3 linked regions of the Homo sapiens genome follow. The protein of the gene in region 2 purifies or fractionates together with the protein of the main gene of each other region. This does not show direct contact. Each region holds a gene or a part of one and is shown on either strand. Other genes may lie near its edges.

Region 1 (5,254 bases), on a different chromosome or scaffold from region 2:
ACATATAACATATGTCAGCTTTTGTCCACTAACTCCATGAGACAAATAAAATGATGATAAGGCCAAAGGTTTCCTTCTCATCCCAACTCTACATCAAAAGAAAAAATGATCTATTCTGATTTTAATAGAGGGTTCTAATTTTACAGTGCTCTCTCGTTTCCTGTAGCACGTGGGGTTTTTCACAGGATATTTGCTTTCTATCACAGCAACTGCTAGAAAATTAGCTTTGCGGCCGGGCACAGTGGCTCAGGCCTGCAATCCCAGCACTTTGGGCGGCTGAGGTGGGTGCATCAGTTGAAGTCAGGAGTTCAAGACTAGCCTGGCTAATATGGTGAAACCTCATCTCTACTAGAAATACAAAAATTAGCTGGGTGTGGTGGCATGTGTCTGTAGTCCCAGCTACTCATAAAATTATAAATATACACTGACTATACACAGCCATCCATGTGCAAGGTTGCAGTACCTGCTTACTCTCTCTTAGAAGATGACAGTGTTTTTCTTTTTCTTTGGAGACGGGGTCTCACTCTGTCATCCAGGCTGGAGTGAAGTGGCACAATCGCAGCTCATTACAGCCTTGACCTCCTGGGCTCCATCAATCATCCCACCTCAGCTCCCCAAGTAGCCAGGACTACAGGCATGTGCCACCATGCCCAGCTAATTTTCGTGGGTTTTTTTTTTTTTGTAGGGACAGGATCTTAGTAATGTTGCCCAGGCTGGTCTCGAACCCCTGGGCTCAAGCAATCCTCGTGCCCCAGCCTCCCAAAGTGCTGGGATTATAGGTGTGAGCACCTTGCCCGGCCCTATTAGTGCGTTTTCAATTCACTCACCTGATTCAACTTCCAGTGGAACTCTGCAGGTCTGTATTTCTTCTCCTCAGAAGGATCCTGACGGAAGAGGAAGATCAGCCGGCACCCGTGGACATAGAGGGAGTAGTGGTGCCGATTCATATCTGCAAAGGCAGTTTCTATGGGTAAATTGCCAACTAAAGATCCAAAGGAGAAATTAAAGCTGTTTCTTGAATGGATTTTGAAGACACAATTTCATCTGCATAAATGAACTCTTCGGCTAAGCCAAGGCAGGGCTTAGAAACAAATACACTTGGGCTTTCCTGAGAGGCGGAGCCTGTGATCACCGTGGACCCCACTGAGCAACAACAGCTAATACCCAAATGCCCAGGCCGTGGCTCTAGGGAACCAAGTGCCCCAGGCACACAGCATGGCACATGGCCTACGAGCACCAGGCTGGCAGGGGACCCTGGGAAAGGAGAGGGAGCCTGCCGCTGGCACCCACCCTACTGGACACTGGGGCCTGGCATCGCTTGCAGAGCTATTACCCTACCTGTTTTATCAGAACTGCAAAGAATTGTCTCCTTCTTCCTGCCGAATGGCCCATGTCTCATCCACACCGAGATGGTGAACGGCTCTTTGGGGCTGACCGACACGACGCCATCCGGGATCCTCACTGCCTGGGTGCCGTTGAACTCAAACACCTGGTCGCTGTCGTGGCCATTGTCGGTGGGCAGGCCCATGGTCCAGTTGAGGGATCCACTCGGGGATGGCAGCAGCTCGGCAGTGCCCGCGGCCGCACCTGAAGCCACAGTGCTCGGTGAAACTCATGTGAGGAGCCAGAGGTCCCGCGCACCTCAAGCCCCCAGGCACGTGCTTGTCTTACACTTAGGCAATCTGCTGGCTCCAGTTTACTTTTTTTTTTTCTTTCGAGACAGAGTCTTGCTTTGTCCCCAGGCTGGAGTACAGTGGCGCGATCTCGGTTCATTGCAACCTCCACCTCCCGGGTTCAAGCTGTTCTCCTGCCTCAGCCTCCCGAGTAGCTGGGATTACAGGCGCGCCCCATTAAAACTGGCTAATTTTTGCATTTTCAGGAGAGCCGGAGTTTCACCATGTTGGCCAGGCTGGCCTGGAACTCCTGACCTCGTGATCCGCCTGACTCGGCCTCCAAAAGTGCTGGGATTACAGGCGTGAGCCACCACGCTTGGCCCTTTCAGTTTACTTCTCTTCAAAAATCAGGGTTTTAAATTACAAAAATAAAAATAACAACCATGGATTTGTTTAAGGAAGGGAAAGGGCCAGGCGTGAACCCGGGAAGCGGAGCTTGCAGTGAGCCGAGATCGCACCCCTGCACTCCAGCCTGGGCAACAGAGCGAGACTCCGTCTCAAAAAAAAAAAAAAAAAACAAAAAGGAAGGGAAAGGAAGCATTTCTTGTAATCTGATTCAAATTATACCATTTTAGTATAAACACCCAGTCCTCCTTTGGTAAATATACACAAAAATGATGCGTTTTCTTAGAAAAATGGAGTCCTGGCAGGGCTTGGTGGCTCACACCTGTAATCCCAGCACTTTGGGAGGCCAAGGCACACAGATTGCTTGAGCCCAGGAGTTGGAGACCAGCCTGGACAACATGGCAAAACCCTGTCAATACAAAAAACACAAAAATTAGCCAGGTGTGGTGGTGCATCCCTGTAGTCCCAGCTACTTGGGAGGCTGAGATGGGAGGATCACTTGAGCCCAGGAGGTTGAGGCTGCAGTGAGCTGTGACTGTGCCACTATACTCCAGCCTGGGCGAGTGCGACCCTGTCTCAAAAATATATAAACAAATACAATAAAAGTGGAGTCCTGCTATGTATGTGCATAATACATATATATTCCTAGCAATATTCTTCTATCATGTAATTTAAACTATCTGAATAGTTGTTTTTTTTTTTTTTTTTTTTTTGAGACAGGGTCTCCTCTCTCGCCCAGGCTGCAGTGCAGTGGTGCAGCGTTGGTTTACCGCAGCCTTGACCTCCTGAGCTCAAGCAATCCTCCCACCTCAGCCTCCCAAGTAGCTGGGACCACAGGTGTGTGCCACCATGCCCGGCTAATTTTTGTGTTTTTGTAGAGACGGGGTTTCGCCATGTTGTCCAAGCTAGTCTCCAACTACTGGGCTCAAGCGATCCATCTGCCTCAGACTCCCAAAGTGCTGGGATTATAGGTGTGAGCCACCGCGCTCGGCCTGAATAGCATTTCATTGTACAGATACAGCATCACCTACTGACCAGCCTCCCAGGTGGGCACAGAGGCTGTCCCTAACCTTTTCCTATTATAAACCTCACCTGCATGCACAGCTTTATGTGTCTCCATGATTATTCCCTTAAAATAAATTCCTAGAAATGAAATTACTAAGTCAAAAAACATAAAAAATGTTTTCCAACCATTCTTATGTATTGCCATGTTCAAATTAAAAAAATTTTTTTTTGTCCACAGGAAAAGATTTTGCAAGCTCCTTCTTGACTAAGCTATTACTCGGAGCAGCAGGCCTTGGCTGGACCAGCCTGGCCTCTTGAGTAACAGAAGACCTTGGTCCAAATCTTAGCTCCTGAAGCTAGACGTGGTGGCTTGCGCCTGTAATCCCAGAACTTTGAGAGGCTGAGGCAGGCAGATCAACTGAGGTCAAGAGTTCAAACCAGCCTGGCCAATATGGTGAAACTCTGTCTCTACAAAAATACAAAAATGAGCCAGGCATGATGGCAGATGCCTGTAATCTCAGCTACTTGGGAGGCTGAGGTGGGAGAATCACTTAAACACAGGAAGTGGAGGCTGCAGTGAGCCAAGATAGCACGATTGCATTCCAGCCTGGGCGACAGTGAGACTCTGTCTCAAAAGAAAAAAAAAAACCACACACACACACTAGAACCTCAGCTCCTGAATATGTGGGCTTGGGCAAGCTACTTAACCTGCTTTAGTCTCAATTGTTTAATTCCTCTGTAACAAGGTCAATACCCACCTACTTCGTAGACTTGTTGGGAACATTAAGCTAAAACACACATAGAAGTACCTGGAGTAAGGCCAGGCGCAGTGGCTCATGCATATAATCCCAGCACTTTGGGAGGCCGAGGTGGGTGGATCACTTGAGGTCAGGAGTTGGAGACGAGCCTCGCCAACATGGTGAAATCCCATCTCTACTAAACATACAAAAAGTAGCCAGGCATCATGGCACATGCCTGTAATCCCAGCTACTTGGGAGGCCGAGGCAGGAGAATCGCTTGAACCCAGGAGGCAGACGTTGCAGTGAGTGAGATTGCGCCACTGCACTCCAGCCTGGGCGACAGAGGGAGACTGTCTCAAAAAAAAAAAAAAAAAAAAAAAAAAAGTACCTGGTGCATAGTAAGCACTCAAATTATTTCTATTCTTCCTAACTTTATTCTGCTGAAAAAAAATTCACTTAATACCATGAAATGAGAGACGGAATAAATTTTATATATTATACTTACATGCATGGTTTAAAACAGAAAATGTGCCAGACCTCCTTACTTAAATATATTTAGGTGACAATTATGAATATTTGGATTCAGAGTTGCCAAACACCCCCATATGCTCATCATTGGACTGTGGCAGCATAATGTCTAGTTTTCTACTTTGGTTTATTTACCACATGATAATTTTCTTCTTATTTATTGTTTTTTTTCTAAGACAAAGTCTAGCTTTGTCACCTAGGCTGGAGAGTAGTGGCACACTCTTGGCTCACTGCAGCCTCCTGGGTTCAAGCAATTCTCCTGCCTCAGCCTCCCAAGTAGCTGGGAGTATAGGCACCTCGCACCACGCCTGGCTAATTTTTTATTTTTAGTAGAGCGGGGGTTTCATCATGTTGATCAGGCTGGTCTTAGACCCCTGACCTCAAGTGATCTGGATAATTTTCAATTATAAACCAGTGGCCGGGCGCGGTGGCTCATGCCTGCAATCAGCACTTTGGGAGGCCGAGGTGGGCGGATCACGAGGTCAGGAGATCGAGACCATCCTGGCTAACACGGTGAAACCCCGTTTCTACTAAAAATACAAAAAAATTAGCCGGGCATGGTGGCAGGTGCCTGTAGTCCCAGCTACTCGGGAGGCTGAGGCGGGAGAATGGTGTGAACCCAGGAGGCGGAGCTTGCAGTGAGCCGAGATGGCGCCACTGCACTCCAGCCTGGGTGACAGAGTGAGACTCTGTCTAAAAAAAAAAAAAAGAAAACCAGTAACCTAAATCTCATGGTTGTTATCAGGCTAGTGAAAAGACTCATCAGTTTAAGAAAATGCTCCCTGAAAAGCTGTTTCACAAAAGCTTTTTGAAACACAAAAGACCCTTCCAATTTATGAAGACGCTGCTTCATTTAGTGGGATTTTATCACCAGTCAACTAAATGTTCTTCCCTCAACATCTTCCATGACAGCCATCCATACCTCACCTCTTCTTCATTTAGATAAACCAGAAAAATATCCGC
Region 2 (5,254 bases):
GCCCACCAGCAACTCGCCCTACTTCCTATTCATTCAAGAAGTATTTAGCCACCAAATCATGAAATCTCAAAATTCCGCCACCAGGCTGCTTTATACAAGGAGGTACTTGATGTGGGAAAACTCATTAGAAAACAGTGGACTTTTCAGGGTCAGAGTGGCAGCTTTGTCCCAGGGTTTGTCAAGTCACCCCAAGTCCTATTCTTGGTTAAATGTCAATGGGCTGTGTGAGTTCTTCGAGCCTCCATTATTAAAGGAATGATCTATGGTGCTTTCTCTGGAGAAAGCCAAGCACTTTCTATTCTTGCTGTTTTCTCAGAATGAGTACATGCCAGTGCTTGTTAACTCATCCAGATTTTCTCTCGACATCCCTCTCTCTTGGGCAATGAGGTGAAGGAGAGATATGTCCTCTTACAAAATGAGGAGGGAGTCATCCCAGGTGGAACATACTTCCCTTCAAAAGCTTGATGGCCTAGGCTTTATTGTATTATCCAGGGAAAGTCTGGGCAGTTGGCCCAGTGCCCGGGCTAGAGTAGTCACTCACTAAATATTTGTCGAATTAAATTTAATTAGAATAATTGAATGAACACTGGATTAAGGGGGATATTTCTCTCTGGTAACAACATGTTCATGTTTTCTGAAACCCTTATGGTATCGGGGTATCTGGGAACTGAAATAGAAAATAGGAAGCCACTAGAGAAACCTGATAGCAGAGTTAAATGGATAAGGGCAGAGGATACACCAAGTTCAAGTTCTACATTAGGTTTGTGATTTTAGGCAAATTCCCTTAATCTCTCTGGGGCTCACCCTACTCTGCAATGTTCATTTTTTTTTAAAAAGTGAAAACAGATGCATTCATTTCTTAGGGCTCTGATAATACATGACCACAAATTAGGTGGCTTAAAACAATAGAAGTGGGCTCTCTCACAGTTCTGAAGGCTAGAAATCCACCATGCAGTGCAAGGGTTGGCTTCTTCTGGAGGGTCTCAGGGAGAATCGGCTCCATGCCTGTCCCCCAGGTTCTGGTGGTGGCTGGCAGCCCTTGGCATTCCTTGGCTTGGAGATGCCCCATTCCAGTCCCTGCCTCCAGTTTCCCATGGCTTTCCCTGTCTCTGTGTGTCTCTGGCTCCATGTCCAAATCTCTTCTCATAAAGATACCAGTTATATTGGATCCATGGCTGCCCTAATCCAGTATGACTTCATTTTAACTAATGAATCTGCAAAGACCCTATTTTCAAATAAGTAACATTCTGAGGCTCTGGGTAGACATGAATTTGGCGGGTGGAGGGAGGGGGCAGACCATCATCGTAACATAGTATAAAACATTACACATGATAAAGCCCTTCTTGTTATTCCTGATACTTTAGTACTGATGTTGCCTTACATGAGGGCATTAAAAAACAATCTTGATAACATTATGCTAAGTGAAGTAAGCCAGTCACAGTCACAAAAAAGACAAATACTCTATGATGCCACTCATATGAGGTATGTAGAAGAATCAAATCCACAGAGTCAGAAGGTAGAAGGCTGGTTGTCAGGGGCTGGGGGGAGGGAAGAATGAGGGGTTATTATTTAATGCAATGCTTTTGTTTTGTAAGATGAGTTTTGGAAATTGCCAGCCCAACAATATGAATATGTACTTAATGCTGCGGCACTGTATGCTTAAAAATGGTTACGATGGCCATGGTTATGTTACATATATTTTACCATAATTTAAAAGTTTAATAATTTTTAATTTCATGAACCAGCCTAGAAACCCAACAACTTTTATAACACTCTTGTTTTTTGTTAAGGAAACTGCACTCTGAGTTGCAAAGAACTTTTGCCCTGAGAATCGTCTGTGAACCGTGTCTGCTTATGCCTCAGTGTTTTATTCTGTTCTCTGTCTTCTTCTTCTCCAATGCCTTAGCTATAACCTGGGCAGTGGTGTGGCATCCATCATGGTGAATGGCTCCTTCAACGATGGTCGGTGGCACCGAGTTAAGGCCGTTAGGTGAGTCCCTCCCGCAGCATGAGGCAGAGCCAGAGCTGAGCAGTGGTGGGATGTGGTGTCCAGTTCCCTTGTAGTCCCACTGTCCTGTTCCCCAACTTTGCCTGGCATCCTAGTTACCCCTGATCCAGGGCATTCAGGGAATTTTCTACCAATTCCCGCTGTGCCCTACATTGACACTATCAGGCCAGGGAAACTGAACCCCCAAACCTTCATTAAGCAGTAACCTTCTGGAGAAGAAACCTTTTGATGGCTGATCTGGAAGAACCTTGAGAGTTCAGTGTATGTGGACTTTAAAGAATGTTTGGGCCGGGCATGGTGGCTGACACCTGGAATACCAGCACTTGGGGAGGCCGAGGTGGGTGGATCACCTGAGCTCAGGAGTTTGAAACCAGCCTGAGTTACATGGCGAAACCCTGTCTCTACAAAAAATACAAAAATTGGCTGGATGTGGTGGCACACGCCTGTAATCCTAACTACTCGGGAGGCTGAGGTGGGAGGACCGCTTAAGCCTGGGAGGTGGAGGTAGCAGGATCATGCCATTGCACTCCAGCCTGGGTGACAGAGTGAGACCCCATCTCAAAAAAAAAAAAAGACTTTCAAATCTCATTGTACAGGCAATCCTCCCCCCTCCCTCTGGCTTTTTTTTGTTTGTTTTGTTTTGAGACAGGTTCTCGCTCTGTCACCTAGGCTGGAGTACAGTGGTGTCATCATGGCTCAGTGCAGCCTCGCTTGACCTCCCAGGCTCAGGCAGTCCTCCCACTTCAGCCTCTTGAGTAGCTGGGACCACAGGTGTGCACCATCTGCCTTGCTATGTTGCCAGGGCTGGTCTCAACCTCCTGGCCTCAAGTGATTCTCCCACCTTGGCCTCCCAAAGTGTTGGGATTACAGGCATGAGCCACTGCACCTGGCCACTTTTTTTTTTTTTACACATTACCTAAACCTTAGAACCTGACTGTATTTCACTCAGCCCCAATTACATATCTCCCCCATCACAGAGGTAATCACCATCCTGACTTCTGATTAACTTTGGATGAATCATTCCTTTGCTCTTCTTTATATAATAGTTTTACTATTAATACCTTTGTCCATATTTCTAACAACATATTTTCAGAAACGAAATAGCAGGCTGAAACTTAGAAATGTCAATCTCGCAAGTTAGATGAAGGTCCCAGGAGAAGATAAGCTGAAATGAAGGTCTGGTTGGGGTTCCCTGAGAATTTATCATAACCCTTTCTGGGGAAGCCAGTGGGTAAAGTCATGAGTGAGGCCTGGGAAACATGGCGCCCACCATGGCTACTTTCCTACTCAGCTCCCATATAGGCTGCAATGGGGAGAGACTTGCTGGGCCCCCAACCCCTGGCTGCTGGGCCCCCAACCCCTGGCTGCTGGGCCCCCAACCCTGGCTGTTGGGCCTGCCTTTGAAACCCTAGAGGAAATGGGGATACAGAGGCAGATCTGTGCCTCTCAGCTTCCCAGATGGTCTAGAAAGCCCTTGAGACAGAGGTTGATTTTGATGAAGTCTCAACTCTAACTTTCTGAAAAAAGAAATGTTGTCCCATCATGAATATCCACATGCTTGGATTTCAAATAGTTTCTAGACTACAAGTTAAAAATTCAGAGCCCAGCCTAACTCCAAAATACTCCAAACTCTATGGCTTCTAACTTCTTCATTTCTGCCTCTTACCCATCTTTAAAGGGGCTTGGCCAGAGACATCCAAAGGAATATGAAATGCTTGAGCTCTTTACCTCTAACCACACTTGATCCCTACAAATCCCCACCCTGGGAACATCAGGGAACAACACCCTTCTCCCAGTTTCCTTGGGTGGAGATCATTGGTAGAATACTCACACATTGTGGAATAATTTTTAAGCCTTCCCAGTTGTTGTTGGGGTTTGATTATGTGTATCAAGATACACTCTGGTGAGGATACCAGGCACTTCCTAGACATCTAAGGAAACTGATGTTAAATGATCTTCCCCTAGACTATACAACTGTTTGTGGGAAAAGCCAAGATTAGAATCCCAGCTCAAAGCCCTTTCCATCCTACCCCATGATGAAACCCACCCAAAGCTAGGATTTCAGATGTTTGGGAGGGATAAGGCAGTGGAATGTTCTACAGGAAGAATTTCACATGTCAGAGTGTCAAGCTGGGCACCATGCAGATGGCTTAGCAGACTTGGCTTTTCCTGTTGGCATCATGGATACCTCTGCTGGTGGGTCTTAGGTTGCAATGAGGGCTGAACAGAAGGAGTCGAGCCCAGGAACTAGATGAATGGGAGGATTCCAGCAGATACTGTGAGTTGTGAGCAGACAGGCCTAGAAGGGAAGAGTTCTCAGGGGGAACTGGGTCAAGGCCATGGATATCAATTATGGCAAGAAGGATTGAGCAGATACCTTAATTCTCTGTAGCAGGCTCCAGGGTTAGAGATAGGAGTGTCAATGAAAAGGAGATTGCCCAGGGGGCCTTGCTTTGGACAGTGTCTTGCTCTGGGGCATCCTGCTCTTGCAGGCATTAATCCCAGCAGAAAAGAGAAAATAAATTCCAGTTTATTAAACATCTCCAGTTGCCAGGTACTTTTCATACTTTGTCTCAATATTCACAGCAACTTAGGTTTTATAATCTTCATTTTATGGATAAAAATGATAATGATATTGATAACAATAACAACACACTCCTCTACCAGTCTTTATAGAGCAAGATGTGTATCAGGTATCATGCCCTGTGCTTTGTACGCATAACATCTGATCTCCACAATAATCTCGGGAGATGGGCATAGCTATTCCCATCTTAGGTGAGGATGCTGAAGCTCCACAGATTCACTGTTCATTCATCATCTGGGATGAGCCTTATATCATTCCAGACACAGGAGATACCTCATTGAAGAAAATTAACATCCTTGCCTTGATGGTCTTGCATTCTAATGGGAAGCAACAGACAATAAGTAATAAACATGATAAAGAAGCATGTTATTATGCTAGAAGGTGATGCCACATTTTTTCAAATCTAAGATGCCATTGATTATAAGGTATATCTTCATTTTAGATATAAAAAATGAAAAACTCTTAGACTTTATGAACTAGAGTAAGTAGAAAAAAATGGAATATTTTAGAGTAATTAATTTTTTTTTTTAAAGGCAGGGCAAGCAAGGCAAGCTGTTGCGGGTTCTGCCTGTCACAGCATTCAGATACAGGATTCTAAGAAAGCACTTCCCAAATGGGAAGTTTGTGGTCTCAAAGATGGGGACAGAACAAGAGAAAGTTCT
Region 3 (5,254 bases), on a different chromosome or scaffold from region 2:
AAGCTCTGCCTCCCAGATTCACGCCATTCTCCTGCCTCAGCCTCCCAAGTAGCTGGGACTACAGGCGCCCACCACCACACCCGGCTAAATTTTTGTATTTTTAGTAGAGACAGGGTTTCATCGTGTTAGCCAGGATGGTCTCGATCTCTTGACCTCGTGATCCACCCACCTCAGCCTCCCAAACTGCTGGGATTACAGGCGTGAGTCACCACGCCCGGCCCAATTTTTGTATTTTTAGTAGAGATGGCGTTTCACCATGTTGGCCAGGCTGGTCTTGAACTCCTGACCTCAGGTGATCCACCCACCTCGGCCTCCCAAAGTGCTGGAATTACAGGCGTGAGCCACTGTGCCTTGCCAATGTAAAGCATTTAGTGCAATGCCTGGCACACACGTTAGGAAGCAGCAAATGTTGATTATCCTCTTCCTCCCCAGCCTGTTCCACACAAGCAGTCTCCCCAGCCAGGGAGGAGTCCAAGGCCACTCCCACCCTGCCATGTCAGACCTCAAATCGAGCCCAGTCCCAAGAGGTATTGTAGTGGGTAGGTCGCTGCAGGTGCCCAAACTGGATCTCATAGGTGGCCTGGGAACTCCGCACGCGAGCAGGGAACTCCACCTTCAGGAACTTGTGGGCCTCATGCCAGTGTACCTGGGAGTGGGAAGGAGGGTGGGAGTCAGGGAAGGAAGAGACACACCAAGGCCTGGGGCTGGCCCCTCCTTACCAAGCACACTTGGGGAAAACAGCCACCCCCTACCCCCCGACTACCTCGGTGTGGAAGCGGACATAGGGGCAGCCAACGTCCAGCACAACCTCCTGGCTAAGCCGACTGTTGGGGCTGATCTGTAGCAAGAACCAGGCGCTGCCCCGCAGGCCGCCCTCGGTGCCCACTGCCAGGGTCCCTGCCTGGCCCAGCACAGGCTTCCTATGGGACAGGGGTGGACATACTGATCCAGAGCAGCCTGTGTTCCCACCACCTCCACCATCCCCACATGCTGCCCAGCCTATACCGTGTCTCCAGGTGGTAGTCCATGACGTCCCATGCATCCCAGTACAAGGGGACATCATCAAATAGCACAAACTGGTTCCCCACGGCGCCCTCAGCAATGGCCTCCCTGGAAGGACATGGGATTGGTGCTGTACAACCAACTGACCTCGCTGTCTCCAGCTGCTCTTGGTGGGGTAGGGTGGAGTGAGTAGACCCAGTGGACAGGGGACTACTGCCCAGCCTGCCCTGCTCCATGTGTGGGTTCCAGCCCAGAGCCACTGGTGGGCTGCTGTGGGCAGTGTTGTGGCAAGGGGAGAGAGGAAATGGCCTGGGGTCTACTTGCCAGGCACTGGGAAAGGGCAATGAGGATTTGGCACCTGCCAGAGGCCACCAGGACCAAGGACGTCAGGCGACCAGTTGGGTCCAGCTTCACTCGGATGATGCCATTGTCCAGAGTCACGGAGCCATCAGTCTTTGTGGGAGGAGGCCTTGAGGCTGAGTCTGTAGGGGCTTCCCACACCAAAAGTCTTCCCACCCCAACCCCAGCCCCGCCTCACCACTTGCTCCAGACAGGGGAGCTCAGGACCCTCAGTTGTAAGAAAGTATCCCAGCACAGTTCCTGCCCCCCAGGGCATGCAGGACTCACCTCTTGCACTACGAACACAGGCTGCTGGGGCAGCAGGGGCTGCAGTGAGGTGGGGGGAGGAACAGGAGCATAGCCCATGCTGGGCACTGTCACCAGGGCTGGGGGTGAGGCCTGGGCATCAGTGCAGCCTTCCTGACCTTTCAGGAAGCTTGCGCAGGTGGGGATGGGTTGGTGGAAGATGTGCTACTACTCTCCAGTCAGGGGCACCCAGATCCCTCGGGGTATCCCAGGCCTGATCTGTCTGGCCTCCATCCTTCCTGCTGCAGTAGCAACCCTTCCCCTCAGCTCGTACCTAGGCTGTGGGCCCCGCCCGGTTTGGGCAGGGCCATCACTTCGATCCGCTTCCAGGGCAGTGTGTTGACGATGAGGAGGCCCTCAGGACCTGGCTCCCCAGCACACAGGGCTGCGGCTGCAGCGCTGAGCAGTGTATTGCCATGGGAACGGATGTCTGAGGAAAGACTGGCTGGTCATAGGTGGGCAACAGGTCTGGAATGTGCCCATGGGTATCCCACAGGGGACACTCTGGGCTCAGCCCTGGGGTTGGAGAGAGCAGGCAGGACTATTGTGAGCCTAACCTTCATAATGGCACATGGCTTCCTCTGCCACCATCTGGATGCAGCTTCCAGTCACCACATCATGGAACTGGTTCAGAAGAAGGAGCCTGCAGGGGCCAAGGGCAGGGATGGGAAGGCTGGGAGGGGCAGGCACAGAGGTAACTGCAGTGAGCAGTCAGGTGGATGGCAGGGACAGAACTGGGCTGACCTCCAGAGGTGCTGCAGCTGGGCTGCTGGGTATAGGAACTGGGCACTGCGGGCCAGGGCCAGGCTACTGAGCAGCTCCACGTCGTGCAGGATCCGCTCACATTCCCGGTTCCCCTTCTTGATCTGAGCCCAGGATGGGAAGATTAGTCTGGAGCCTGCTTAGCTGTCCCAGGACACCTTCCAAAGCCCTCCCTTGCTCAGAATCCCTGAGGACTCACCAAGGGCCTCGTGGAGAAGGCCTCTGGCGGGTGACCTGCCTTAAATGCCTTCCCTCTTCTCCCCGCAGCCCAAACCCTTCTTTCTTCAGGGGTTTCTGCCTCCTTCAAGCTTTCTTGACCAACCCAGGTCTTGAACTTCTCTCCTCCAAACTTCTCTTCCCCTAGATCTGGCCTGGGCTCTGTCCCCTGCTGCCTTCTCTGACCCTCTGCAGATCAAGGGCACACCCTCCCTGCACAGCCCTGCAACCTCCCCCTGACCTGGGCATGGGTGGTGTATGTGCCATTGTGCAGCTCCAAGAAGAGCTCCCCAACCCACGTGCACAGCTGCTCTGAGTCACTCTCCAGTGCTGAGAAGAGCTGTCTTGGAGAAGATAGCTGCACCCTGAGGAGACCACAAGCCTAGGTCTCCCAGCCTTGGAGACCACATGGCTCACCCTTCTTCCACACCAAAGCAAAGGATCCAGCTCCTACAGAGAGGAGCCACTCCAGAAAGCTCCCCGTTCACAGATGGCCAGCCCTGGACGCCCTAGGAGAGCCTCTCTCTCTGATGGGCTGGAGCCCTTACCAGCTTCAGCTTCTCCCCCACCCACCCCCAGGGTGGAAGTTTGGAGGAACCCGTGGTCTAGGATTGGGACAGGACAAGGTCCAGAGGAGGGGTTGGGCCCAATGTCTGAGGGAAGGCAGGGCTCATGGCAAGGGCCCAGGGTGGGGCTAAAGGAGAGCCAAGGCCTGGCCTGACCTGGGCAGCCCATCCGTATTGCTCAGGCGCTTCAGGCGGTCCAGCATGGTCTGGGTGGGGCCACCACCCCCATCCCCAAAGCCAAAGAGGAAGGCACTGTGGTTGGCCCGCCCCTTGTCCCGGTTGTTGGCCACGGTCTTCAGCACCTAGACAGGTGAGGGCAGGCCAGCATGGATCAGCCTGGAACAAGCCAGCCCTCTCCAGCCTGCCCCTACCCCACCACCCTAGGTGACCCCTCACCTCCTCCACGCTGCCCTGCATCCCATAGGAGTCGCCAGGTGGGAAGTGGACCAGTACACGGGAGCCATCCAGGCCCTCCCAGAAAAATGTATGGTGCTACCAGCAGGGAAACAGAAGCAGGGCAGAGAGGCCAGAGTCAGGGCTGAGGCAGAGCCAGGCCTTCCAGACTTGGTCCTGCCCCTGCCTGCTATGTGACCCTGGCAGAGGCAGAGTGAGGGTTTGGTGGTCTGTCTAGGACCCCACAATAAGGGGGAGAGGCAAATGGGCCAGGCGGGACTGAGGCCCACTCTGACCCTGACCCCCCGGGGGCCTGCTTACTGGGAAGGAGTTCACCAAATTCCAGCTCAATTTCTGGGTGAGAAAGCGCCTGATGCCACAGCCGTGCATGATCTGGGGGAGCTGTGCTGAGTAGCCAAAGGTGTCCGGCAGCCAGAACTGTGGAGAAAGAGGATCCTGGAGTGCAGGAACCAGAGCTCCAGGCGGACTCACCCCAGCCTCAGCCCCTCAGCACTCCAAGTCGAGCGCCAGCCCCACTCGCCCACAGCCTGGTGTAGCAGCTCTCAGCCTACCTCAGAGCACATCTTCCCAAACTCCTGCAGAAAGAAGTTCTGGCCCTGCAAAAACTGCCTCACCATGGCCTCTCCACTGGGCAGGTTCCCATCCTGGCAGTGAAGGAAGTGGGAGGCAGCCCAGGTCAGCGCTGGACGGGGAGCAGGCAGGCGCTCAGGCCAACCCAATCCCTGCAGGAGAAGCCAGGGCTGCTCAAACATGGGAGTTACAGCCAGAACTCAGGAAGGGCCCCTGTCCTTCAGGCCTGACTGTCCATCTGCCTGAGGGGGTGCCCAGGACTAGGCCATGCAACTTGTCACAGCGCTGGAGGCTCTCCTCCCCCTTGAAGTCCCAGGCCTTGAGATCCCAGGGACTAATGAGCCAGCCCTGCCACACAGCGGGGATGAGTGGCCCGTGGAAACTCACCAGCAAAGCCGGGAGGGCGGGGCTACCTGAGGGAAGGCTGTTGTCATACAGTTCAAGGCTGAGGAGTGCCCAGTGCACTTACCATCTCCACCCAGGTGCCCCCCACAGGCACAAACTGCCCACGGCACGCAAACTCCTGGATGCGGGAGTACAGGCCAGGGTAGCGGCTCTTCACCCATTCCAGCTGCTGCGCCTGTGGGCAGGTTGAAGGGAGCTGGGACCAGAGTGACAAGGGCCCCACCCAGGACTGAGCATATGGGACTCAGTGTGTGGCTGAGGGTGAGGAGCAGCCCTGACCCCAGGCCTGGGAAGCCTTCAGGGCCTGTGGAGCTCCAGGGAGGGCCACGTGCTTCCCTCCTCCCTCACAGCTGTCCCTCTGACCTGGGAGCAGGCAAAGATGAACTCAGGGTTCCGCTCCATGAGCTGCAGGGCGGTCACCCAGCTCCGGGCACATTTCCTCACAGTCTCTTTGAAGGGCCAAAGCCAGGCTATACGGGGAGTGAGGTGGAGGACAGAGGGAGCAGCAAGGCTGACCAGGCCTGGGCTGGGACTCCAGAGGGTCACCTAGCCCCCCTCCCATCCCAGGCCCTTCACCCTGGAAAGCCCTGTGGTGTCCCTCCTAAGTGGTCACTTCACTTCACTCCAGCGAGGTGGGAGGAGGGGCTGGGGAAAGGAGGCGGCAGTGCTATGAG

The links. Proteins that work in one complex are often made in the same cells at the same time.
Region 1: the proteins of EGFLAM (region 2) and CLSTN1 purify together in Homo sapiens (affinity purification with mass spectrometry; one large-scale study listed by BioGRID and IntAct). This does not show direct contact.
Region 3: the proteins of EGFLAM (region 2) and MAN2C1 purify together in Homo sapiens (affinity purification with mass spectrometry; one large-scale study listed by BioGRID and IntAct). This does not show direct contact.

Annotation. Positions count from the first base shown.
Region 1 is NC_000001.11:9,743,057-9,748,310, forward strand, and holds part of CLSTN1 (calsyntenin-1 isoform 1 precursor), read right to left. Parts: intron 1,588-5,254; coding exon 1,339-1,587; intron 950-1,338; coding exon 828-949; intron 1-827. UniProt on the Homo sapiens protein: Postsynaptic adhesion molecule that binds to presynaptic neurexins to mediate both excitatory and inhibitory synapse formation.
Region 2 is NC_000005.10:38,456,405-38,461,658, forward strand, and holds part of EGFLAM (pikachurin isoform 1 precursor), read left to right. Parts: intron 1-1,906; coding exon 1,907-1,990; intron 1,991-4,520; exon of another isoform or gene 4,521-4,909; intron 4,910-5,254. UniProt on the Homo sapiens protein: Involved in both the retinal photoreceptor ribbon synapse formation and physiological functions of visual perception.
Region 3 is NC_000015.10:75,357,699-75,362,952, forward strand, and holds part of MAN2C1 (alpha-mannosidase 2C1), read right to left. Parts: intron 5,051-5,254; coding exon 4,944-5,050; intron 4,756-4,943; coding exon 4,645-4,755; intron 4,250-4,644; coding exon 4,157-4,249; intron 4,023-4,156; coding exon 3,906-4,022; intron 3,684-3,905; coding exon 3,588-3,683; intron 3,494-3,587; coding exon 3,348-3,493; intron 2,991-3,347; coding exon 2,867-2,990; intron 2,514-2,866; coding exon 2,392-2,513; intron 2,291-2,391; coding exon 2,205-2,290; intron 2,078-2,204; coding exon 1,922-2,077; intron 1,741-1,921; coding exon of another isoform or gene 1,728-1,740; coding exon 1,630-1,727; intron 1,494-1,629; coding exon of another isoform or gene 1,456-1,493; coding exon 1,361-1,455; intron 1,111-1,360; coding exon 1,006-1,110; intron 921-1,005; coding exon 764-920; intron 647-763; coding exon 503-646; intron 1-502. UniProt on the Homo sapiens protein: Cleaves alpha 1,2-, alpha 1,3-, and alpha 1,6-linked mannose residues on cytoplasmic free oligosaccharides generated by N-glycoprotein degradation pathways.